2 separate regions of the Homo sapiens genome follow, and region 1 is linked to region 2. The links come from fine-mapping of genetic effects on plasma protein levels. A gene starts in region 2. The other region holds a variant in brackets. All regions are shown on one strand. Distances are from middle to middle. Region 1 holds the start of CLEC4E (C-type lectin domain family 4 member E). Region 2 holds the start of CLEC4D (C-type lectin domain family 4 member D).

Evidence for each region. PIP is the posterior inclusion probability: the model's chance that the variant is causal. Protein levels are from antibody-based Olink assays in UK Biobank. Linkage for the fine-mapping came from a reference panel and not from the study's own genotypes, which makes the PIPs less certain.
Region 1: its variant is fine-mapped to the plasma level of the CLEC4D protein (UK Biobank, PIP above 0.99).

Annotation. Positions count from the first base shown.
Region 1 is chr12:8,537,144-8,542,499 of GRCh38, reverse strand. It overlaps CLEC4E (C-type lectin domain family 4 member E), which reads left to right and starts at 1,595. Exons shown (of 6, transcript NM_014358.4): 1 at 1,595-1,739; 2 at 2,553-2,645; 3 at 3,194-3,283; 4 at 5,234-5,356. The coding sequence starts at 1,703. The variant C/A (reference allele first, on the strand shown) is at 1,575.
Region 2 is chr12:8,510,383-8,515,765 of GRCh38, reverse strand. It overlaps CLEC4D (C-type lectin domain family 4 member D), which reads right to left and starts at 2,263. Exons shown (of 6, transcript NM_080387.5): 1 at 2,006-2,263; 2 at 438-530. The coding sequence starts at 2,033. It also overlaps the pseudogene SUPT4H1P2.

The DNA of each region.
Region 1 (5,356 bases), 27 kb before region 2:
AAATTCGTGAGTCACTGGATGTGGGGATTTACCAAGTCATGTACATCATACTTATGCCTCCTGACTCGTGAACTTAAATAAACTGAGACCAGTGTGATCTTATTCTTAAGTATCTTTAAGTAAGGAGAAGGCACATATCTAACTATTCTTCCAGAGAAGCATTAATTCTTTTTTTTTTTTTTTTTTGAGACAGAGTCTCACTCTATCGCCCAGGCTGGAGTGCAGTGGTGCAATTTTGGCTCACTGCAACCTCTGCCTCCCAGGATCAAGCTATTCTCCTGTCTCAGCCTCTCAAGTATCTGGAATTACAGATGCGTGCCACCACACTTGGCTAATTTTTGTATTTTTAGTAGAGGTGGGGTTTCACCATGTTGGCCAGGCTGGTCTCAAACTCCTGACCTCAAATGATCCACCCACCTTGGCCTCCCAAAGTGTTGGAATTACAGGCATGAGCCACTGCTCCCGGCCCAGAGAACCATTAAATTCTAATATCTAATTGAAATTGCTTTTTCTGACCTTCAAATACATTTCTCCTACTGTAGGCTGTAACATAGAACTAAAATCCCCAAATAATTGAGAACAGGAGAATTAAACTGCCTGCTGGGTCTCTGAGACTTCAGAAGCTGCGTTATGTTGTGAAAAACTAAGCTGAGTTTCAAAGTGGTCTAATCACATGAGGCTGTCCTGCTGAGGGGGACTCTAGTAGTCAGCCTAGTAGTAGCAGCCTAGTAGTCAGCATAAGATAAGAGGGACATAAATCCACAACATTAGAATATTCAAGAGCTGCAAATGAAGAAGAAAGAAAAACCATAAAAGATGAAAAAGAGGACGGGCGCGGTGGCTCACGCCTGTAATCTCAGGACTTTGGGAGGCTGAGGCGGGCGGATCACGAGGTCAGGAAATTGAAACCATCCTGACGACCACAGTGAAACCCCGTCTCTGCTAAAAATACAAAAAATTAGCCAGGCGTGGTGGCGAGCGCCTGTAGTCCCAGCTACTCGGGAGGCTGAGGCAGGAGAATGGCTTGAACCCGGGAGGCGGAGCTTGCAGTGAGCGGAGATCATGCCACTGCACTCCAGCCTGGACGACAGAGCGAGACTCTGTCTCAAAAAAAAAAAAAAAAAAAAAGATGAAAAAATTCAGGTTGCCATGTCCTAAATACATACACTATATGCCCAGCTTTGTGCTATGTTGTCTAAGTCTTCTTTTCAGTTACCAAATGTGTGGATGGTACAGATCCAAAGTGAAATTCAGAGTGCAGAGGTGAGCTCCATATTGTCAAGGAAAAACTGGGGGATGAGTTATGCCTTGAAGAAACTAGAGACATTTGGTCCAACGAAACGAAACAACATTTAAAAAAAAAACTCTCCTGTTTCCCCATGGCTAGCCTATTTGTGTTGATGCTTACCATTTCATAATTTCCTCATTTTGTTGTTACATGGAGTGAAGAGAACTGACATGCTGTCCAATAAACTTCCTTGTCCTCCTTATGCAAGAAAGGAAATCCTGACTTAATGCGTAGCCACAGAACAAGTTAATATTCTACATCTATCGGAGCTGAACTTCCTAAAAGA[C/A]AAAGTGTTTATCTTTCAAGATTCATTCTCCCTGAATCTTACCAACAAAACACTCCTGAGGAGAAAGAAAGAGAGGGAGGGAGAGAAAAAGAGAGAGAGAGAAACAAAAAACCAAAGAGAGAGAAAAAATGAATTCATCTAAATCATCTGAAACACAATGCACAGGTAAAATCTGCAACTCTTCCTTTCCTTCCATAGATCTCTTTTTGGAACAAGTGATAAATATGGTGAAAGACAGGACAATAGAAAAGTATTCACTGAAGTTAAAAAAAAAAGTGGGGGGACAGAGGAAGAGAGAGAGAGAGATTTAAAGACTATTTCTTATACCAGAAAGCCTGCTGGCCTCTAGCTAAGGGAGAGCTATCAGTTTCCACCCTTTCTGCAATACATTGTGTCCCTTTTGGCAAGTCACTTCACTTCTCTGGAACTCTCTTTGTCTGTAAAATGTTTAATGGGAGGAAGAGAGGAACTATTAGATGACTGTTAACATTTTACCTAATTTACAAAGCGCTTGAAAAGTGAGACACAGAAAAAAAAAAAAGATCAGGAGAAGGACAAGAAAAGCAAAGACGAGAAAAGGGAAAAGAAAGAAAAAGAAAGAAGGGGGGCCTTAGAAAATACTGAAAAAAATTTAACTGAGAGACTTAGAAAGGAAAAATTGTATATCTGAGTTCATGAGTCAGAGTCTTACTCCAGGGGTGCTAAACGTGTGGTCCTCAGACCAGCAGCAGCAGTAGCCCCTGGGAACTTGTTGGTTCCATACAAACTCTACTGAGTTGCTAACTCTGGGGGTAAGGGTCAGCAATCTGTGTTTCCATAAACCCTCCAAGTGATTCTGAAGCATGCTGAAATTTGGGAATTACTCAGTACAAACAATGGAAGTAGAAGGAAATAAGTAAGGATGAATAAGAATCTCTTCTATCTCTTTTGTACCTTGCTTAGGGAAGATTGATCATGTTTGTGTCTTTCTTTCTACAGAGAGAGGATGCTTCTCTTCCCAAATGTTCTTATGGACTGTTGCTGGGATCCCCATCCTATTTCTCAGTGCCTGTTTCATCACCAGATGTGTTGGTGGGTTCTGAAGGTCAAATTCAATTTAATTCTTCCTGGTGCATATTAGGAGAAAACTCTTCCATGCTGCCTGTAGACTCTCTTTGCCCTCAAAGGGTCTTTCTATTTCACCCTTTTTTTTTTCCCTATTAATCTCTAGGTTATTTCTCAAACCAGAAACCTCAACAAGCAGGGAACTGTTTCTGAATTTTAATCACCTGTGACTTACTTTTCATGATAGACATTTTTCACTTCCTTGGCAGTCCTGAATCCTCCTCTTTCAGCCTCTATCATTAGTGTAACCTTCTCTAGGAGAGTCTGCCTTAGAGCTTGAACTACTGGTCGGCACCAGAGATATGACTAATTACTTTTGGAAGGAAGGGTAGAGAGAGTTGGACTTGGCATAAGAGGTAGTGCAAACATATCTATTTTCTCTGGGTCGTAAGAAAAAGCAGATTGTAAGAAAAAACATGATAATTATTGGCACTTTTGTTATAAATACAAAACTGAGGGAACTGACATTTTTAACCGAAATAAGACTAACAAACATTATGCCCTTTCTTTTACAGTGACATTTCGCATCTTTCAAACCTGTGATGAGAAAAAGTTTCAGCTACCTGAGAATTTCACAGAGCTCTCCTGCTACAATTATGGATCAGGTATAATAGTCCCAAAGGTGAACATCAAAATTTACAAAGCAACATTTTCTGGCTTCTAGATTGACTTTGGGACAGGTGAGATATAGCTGGATTAGGTCTTATTTTTCAAAAGCAAAATGTAAAATCCTAGAAATTTGGTGATGCAATTAGCATTGGGGCAGAAAGTCTTGGGGACATTATAGTAAACTTTTAGAATAAATTTGAGGGGTATGTCTGAACAGTAAATCTGGAAGTGGAAGGTATTATTCCCAGGAGTGTACCTTTTTTTTCATTCACCTACTTCCAAAATGAGATGGAGAAAAAACGTATGGAGTAGAGAATTTATAAATATCTCACAAATATACTCTCTATGCTCTTCTATGTCATCCTGTTGCAAGTCCTAGCAAAATGCTACATGACACTAAAAAAGTGACTTCCTTCTCTGAGCTATAATTTTCTCACCATTAAATTGAGAGAAGTTAGAAGAATTATTTATAATAGACCTCAAAGGCAAAAGTTCTGTAATTCTAAGAAATCTAACTGTAGGGACCAGCCCCACAGGGTTGGTGGGTCTCTCCCTGTGTCCAGAGACGAGAGCATGTAGAAATAAAGACACAAGACAAAGAGATAAAAGAAAAGGCAGCTGGGCCCAAGGGACCACTACCACCAATGCGCGGAGACCGGTAGTGGCTCCGAATGTCTGGCTGCGCTGTTATTTATTGGATACAAGGTGAAAGGGGCAGGGTAGAGAGTGTGAGTCATCTCCAATGATAGGTAAGGTCATGTGGGTCACGTGTCCACTGGACAGGGGGACCTTCCCTGCCTGGCAGCCGAGGCAGAGAGGGAGAGGAGACAGAGAGAAAGACAGCTTACGCTATTATTTCTGCATATCAGGGACTATTAGTACTTTCGCTAATTTACTACTGCTATCTAGAAGGCAGAGCCAGGTGTACAGGATGGAACATGAAGGCAGACTAGGAGTGTGACCACTGAAGCACAGCATCACAGGGAGACGGTTAGGCCTCCGGATAACTGCGGGCAAGCCTGACTAATGTCAGGCCCTCCACAAGAGGTGGAGGAGCAGAGTCTTCTCTAAACTCCCCCAGGGAAAGGAAGACTCCCTTTTCCTGTCTGCTAAGTAGCGGGTGTTTTCCCTTGACACTTAACGCTACCGCTAGACCACAGTCTGTCTGCCTGGCCACGGGCGTCTTCCCAGACGCTGGCGTCACCGCTAGACCAAGGAGCCCTCTGGTGGCCCTGTCCGGGCATAACGGAAGGCTCGCACTCTTGTCTTCTGGTCACACCTCACTATGTCCCCTCAGCTCGTAGCTCTGTACGGCCTGGTTTTTCCTTGGCTATGATTATAGAGCGAGGATTATTATAATATTGGAATAAAAAGTAATTGCTACAAACTAATGATTAATGATATTCATATATAATCATATCTAAGATCTATATCTGGTATAACTATTCTTGTTTTATATTTTATTATACTGGAACAGCTCGTGTCCTCTGTCTCTTGCCTCAGCGCCTGGGTGGCTTGCCGCCCACATCTAACCCATCTATATACTACAGTATGGAGATTTGATTGAGGATACATTGTTTAGGTAACATAAGAGATGGCTCTTTGGGGGTCACCCAAATAAAATGCATAAATTTCTCTGACATTAGTAGTCTAAGAACAGATAATAAGGTTCTATATCAATAGCATAACTAAGATAGTTTGCATATATAGTTGCATTTCCTGGCACTGACATCCAGAGAATGAGAATTACGTTCAAAAGACCAAAAACATTCTGTTTATGTTTCTTGACATTGGAATTATCTAAAGTCTTAGATACTAAGATGTAGGGTATGAACAAGTGATTCCAAGGCTTCTGACTTAAATGAGGACTCCATGGGGCCAGATGAAGCTTTGGGTTTTCTTATTCGGTTCACCTGGGACACTCACTGAAACATCTCTCATCCTAGGTTCAGTCAAGAATTGTTGTCCATTGAACTGGGAATATTTTCAATCCAGCTGCTACTTCTTTTCTACTGACACCATTTCCTGGGCGTTAAGTTTAAAGAACTGCTCAGCCATGGGGGCTCACC
Region 2 (5,383 bases):
CGTACATCAATAAAGAGGTTGAAAGAAAGGAAAAAAGAAAGAAAGAGAGGGAAAGAGAGAGAGAGAACAATTCTTCCAACCTTGTTCTTTTCAAAGCCAGTCTATCTGAAAGTTATTTTTCTTCTGCTTACTCTTTTCTCATAAGATGTATCCCTTTGTGATCCCAGTCCAAAATGGGGGGAAATTTGCTATAGTAACCAACTTTTACATGTACAGAAAATGGTCTAAATTCCATCAATCAATCTCTATCACAAGGTACCACCATTGAAAGACAGAAGGTCAAGAATGTAGCTCTGAATATTCAGTGCAAGACCCTGAAGATATTATAGATAGGTTATGCTAGGAAAAATCAAGATACCAAAAGGCTTAGAGCAACTTCAGAAAAGTTGTTTGGAAATAATAATTCAAGAAGAGTTCTACTTTGGCTAATAACTTACCCAAACAACTTGCAATAAAACAGACACTGAGAAGTAAGATGAAAACTACAGCAATAACCGAAGGTATCAGCTGGGGATGCATGCCTCCTTCCACTAGGACCAAAAGAAAAATAGAGATTAACCTCCTCTCAGCTACAAGCTAGGAAAGCTAATTCTACCAAGGAGCAATCTAAAAGTGACAGCAAACCAAATATTTCAGATCTAGAGAAGAGCATAAATATTTTCTCCAAATAAATCAATTTTAGAGCTTATTGATGAATAAATAAATAAGAAAGAAAAATGTAAAATTTCTTGGTAATTTTGAAATGAAAAGAATTTTATAAGTAAGATACAAAACCCAAGAGCCATTAGAATAGATAATTTGAGTACATAAAAATTAAAACTTCTATATAACACAAGCAATGTTAGAGTCAAGGAACGTATGAAAGGAAAGTCTTCTCATAATATTAATATCCGCACTGGATAAAGTATTTCAAAATCAACTAGAAAACTGAGCAAAACTCTGAGCAGGAAATTTGCTGAAATTTTAATTTGCTGAAGTTATAAATAGCCACTAATCAAACAAAAATATGCCCAATCAGGGAACTGTAAACGAAAAGATTGTGGTATAACTTTTCACACATCAGATTTTTTAAGTAAATTAAGTACATGCAGTGTTGGCAAGGCTGAGGGGAAATAAGCACTCTTAGTGAGAAAATAAATGCTGCTGCCTGGACTGGAAAATTAGGAATGCCTTTTAGAAGGATCAATTTAGTGGCATTTATCCATTTTTAAATGCATTTCATTTGCCACAATAATTTCAATTACAGGTGTCTATTCTATAGAAATAATTGAGCTTGTTTATGTTAAAAGATATTCATTGCAGTACTTCTCAAAATAGAAAACACATACTGTAATCTAATATTTACATGTATATTATCAATAGTGGAAATTCTAAATTATGGTCCCTTCACACAATGATATTCTGTATAGTAATTAAATAAGCATGTAATCAGTATATATTGATGCAAAAAATCTCTAAGAAATATTGTTACCTAAAAAGGTAATTCAATAGGATCACACTGTGATTACAGTTTGCCATGGTAGGGTGATGAGATAAAGTAAAACTTTAATTTTAATTTAAACATTTCCACACTTGTTCTATATATCTATCAAAAATATTATTTAATATTATCACAATACAAATCCACTGGTGTCACTTAAGTCAAACATAAAATGGGACAGTTAGAGCCTCTGATACAGCATAAGCCTAAATGCTTTTTCTACATCTTCCTTTTCTCTTTTTTCTTTAAAAGAATCTTCTCATATTACTCTCTTTCTTTTCATCTTATTTCTCTTTTATATATTTTATCTCCCCTCTTGGTCCAATATACATTTTATAAAGAAGTTTCTGTTATCCAACTTATTTGACTCTATGTCCTTCCTCTTCACCAACGTCATTTTTATTTCCTTCCACCTCCTTCTCCCCGTCATCATCAACAATCTTTAAAACTACCATCAATTCATATGTTTTAAATTAGTATAATTCCATCTGCTTCTTTGAAATGGAAAGGAGAGAAAGTACTCACGTTTACTTTGAGGTTTTTCTAGCCCCATTGTCTAATTAGTCTCTTGTTCAATGGTCAGGACGGCAAGAATTTGTTCTATTTTTTTTCCCCCAGAGTATATTTCTGTGGATAGGGGAATATATTCAGAAATACTTGAGATCGAACACCAATGTTACATATTGTAGTGAGATTAGAAAGGTACCAGTATAAGAAAGTTAGCTCAAAAGAAGTCTTTTTCAAAGACAGGGGTTTCCTTTGATACATTCCGGGAGATGAGGCGAAAAAAAAAAAAAAAGGAAATTGAGAAAGCAATACCAAACAACAGTTAGTAGAAACCCACAAGTATGTTGAGATCACTAGATCAGTGTGAAATGTGGAATTTCTCAATTTGTTTTTTTTTTCATTTAGACAAAAAATTTAGCAACGCCCTAAAAGAAATAATTGTTATGCCCAATAAAAATTTAGTAAATGTCCCCTCTTTTTAAATTCTTTTTGTGAATATTATATTTTCAAAGGCAGTTATATTCTTGGGGTGAGTTCTATACTAAAAAGTTCTCTGGACTGAATAAAAAGTTGAGTCTAAGAGAGCAAAAGACAATGTGAACAATGAACAAAAACTTTTAAAGTATACCTTGTGTGTACATGGCATGTGAAGACACAGCAACCTTTGTTTTCGAGTTGAGGAAGAGATGATAGAGCAGTTAATTAAATCCCAAGAACTTTCTAGGTGAGCAAAAAGAGTTGTGTTAAGGCAAAGACAAAGAAAATGTAAGATTCTGTGATAAAGACACCATCAGGGTCCCTGACTTCATTTATAGCACTGTTAGGGAGTGAATGTCTGTATCTCCTCAAAATTCATTGGTGGAAGCACTACCCTCCAACGTAATGGCATTTGGAGGTCAAAAGTTTGGGAGGTAATTAGGTTTAATATGAGGTCATGAGAATGGGGTCCTCATGATGGAATTATAAGAAGAGACCCGGCTAACGAGCTGTTTACTTCCTGCGGGTGCTCAGGCTGTGGCCATCTTCCTTGCTGTTGCTCTTCTCATTGGAGAAGATGGCCCTGGAGACGGTGCTGAAGGACCTGTGGCATCTGTGGGCCTGTTTGCTGTGTTCACTGGTCAAGGTACTATAGACCAGTTTGAATATGATGGTTGTGACTATTGAGATGCATATCTACAGATGAAGGGTAACTGAGAGATGCTATATGGCTGCACCAGCTCCTCCTTTGATGGAATCATTGCGATGATGAGTCCAGAGGACAGCTGGGTCTCCAACTGGCAGCGAGTCAATAACTTTAAGCCAGGTGTATATGCGGTGTCAACCACTGGTCGCTTGCCCTAAGGAATCGTGCGGGAGCTGAAAAGTTGAGGAGTGGCCTACAAATCCAAAGACACAGCTATAAAGACCAGACGCAGGGCTGCCAGCGTCTTTGCTCTCCACCTCCTGCCTCTGCTTATTTTTTGTTCTGGAACTAAATGGGCAGAGCTTCAAATGCTTCCTACCCTCCAATTCAGACTCAGCCAACTGTTGAGAGAACAGCACATCATTTTATCATTTTACCTTATTTGGACTTCAGGTGGGGGTGGGAGGGATTTGGGTTGGTGGATTAACAGATGGAATTGAGGAGAGAGTAGGATGCTGACTTTCCTACCTGTAGCCCAAGGCTGCGCCTTGCTCATGAAGAGGTCTAGGTCAAATGTCAATAAATAGAAACCTCTAGAAAGTTCTTAAGGCCATGACACCTGCCTCGCTTCCCTCTTCCTTTCTCTTAGGCACACAGTAAGAGCTTATTTGCCCTATAAGATACCTTCCCAGAGCAGCAGAGGCCCTTCCACTCCCTCTTGACTGTCTCAGCCTCCAGGATTGCAGCCTTTGTAGTGTGCTTCCTTGCTTCCTATCAGAAGGTGCTGTCCAGAGGCTCAGTAACCCCATCAGCTTGGTGGCCCTGGTGTCTTGTGCTTGTATCCTTCTGCCCTTGAGACCTGGCACAGCAGTATCCCTTGAAGAAATCCTGAGGCTTTGTCGTGCTCCTTGCTCCTTGACCATGTTTAATAATTCTTTTCCCCCTCTGCTCGTCAGTTTTCTTCTCTTTACTGCTCTTCCTATATCTTAGGCCAGTCTCACACACTCACATTTTACATTTTCCTTACTGGAGACCCTTGGGCCTTGGCCGACTGCTGGGTCCTAGTCTGCCTTGTTTGTGCCCCTGTAGGAGGCAGGTCCTTTTCTCCGCCGGCCCAGTAGGGGACCTTGGGTAACATCCCATTTTTCGGCCAAAGTGAGTTATTTGTTTTAGGATAAAAAATTTACTACAAATTCTCATTTACTTAAATTTCCACAGAAATCCTGTTAGTGTCCCCATTTTGATTTCCCTAAGTTCCTTGTTCTCCCTCTGTAAAAAAAGAATGATTACACCTTGCCTGTTTACCTCAGGAATGTTGTGATTGTAGAAACGAAGCTATGTGAAAATTATGCAGCCATAAAAAATGATGAGTTCATGTCCTTTGTAGGGACATGGATGAAGCTGGAAACCATCATTCTCAGCAAACTATCACAAGGACAGAAAACCAAACACCACATGTTCTCACTCATAGGTGGGAATTGAACAGTGAGAACACTTGGACACAGGAAGGGGAACATCACACACCGGGGCCTGTTGTGGGGTGGGGGGAGGGAGGAGAGATAGCACTGGGAGAATGAGGAGTTAATGGGTGCAGCACACCAACATGTCACATGTATACATATGTAACAAACCTGCACGTTGTGCACATGTACCCTAGAACTTAAAGTATAATAAAAAAATTTAAAAAAAAATTTAAAAAAAGAGAGAGAGAGGAAAAAAAAAGAGAGATGAGTTCTCCAGAAGGCAGTCATCTGCAAGGCTAGTAGAAAGCCCTCACTGGTAAAGTGGTTAATTTGACAGGACTCCAAGAACAAATTTACATGACCTGAAGGAGGACACTTTGGGATTCATCACAGAAGCCACATAACCTACAGAGAGCAAAGAAGAGCGACACAGAGCAGCTGCCCATCCAGGATTGCCATGGAGCCAAGGGAGGCTCCCCACAATGGGGAAATGATGAGTGACAGTCCCTAGGGACCCACACTTCTGCCATGCTGGCACTCTGATCTGAGACTTCCAGCTATTAGAACGGTGAGAAATAAATGTCTCTCTTTCATACCACCGGTCTATGGTATTCTGTTATAGTGGCCCAAGCTCACTAAGACAAGTACATAACAGCTTAGAGATCCTTTAAGAAAGATCTCTACAATTTCCAGAATATAGCCCTTTCCCTGAACTCTTCCCTAAGCTACAATATTACTTTAATGATATGTGTGTATATATATTCTGTGATCTTCAGTGAAATATTACTTTACTATGTTAAATTGGGGATG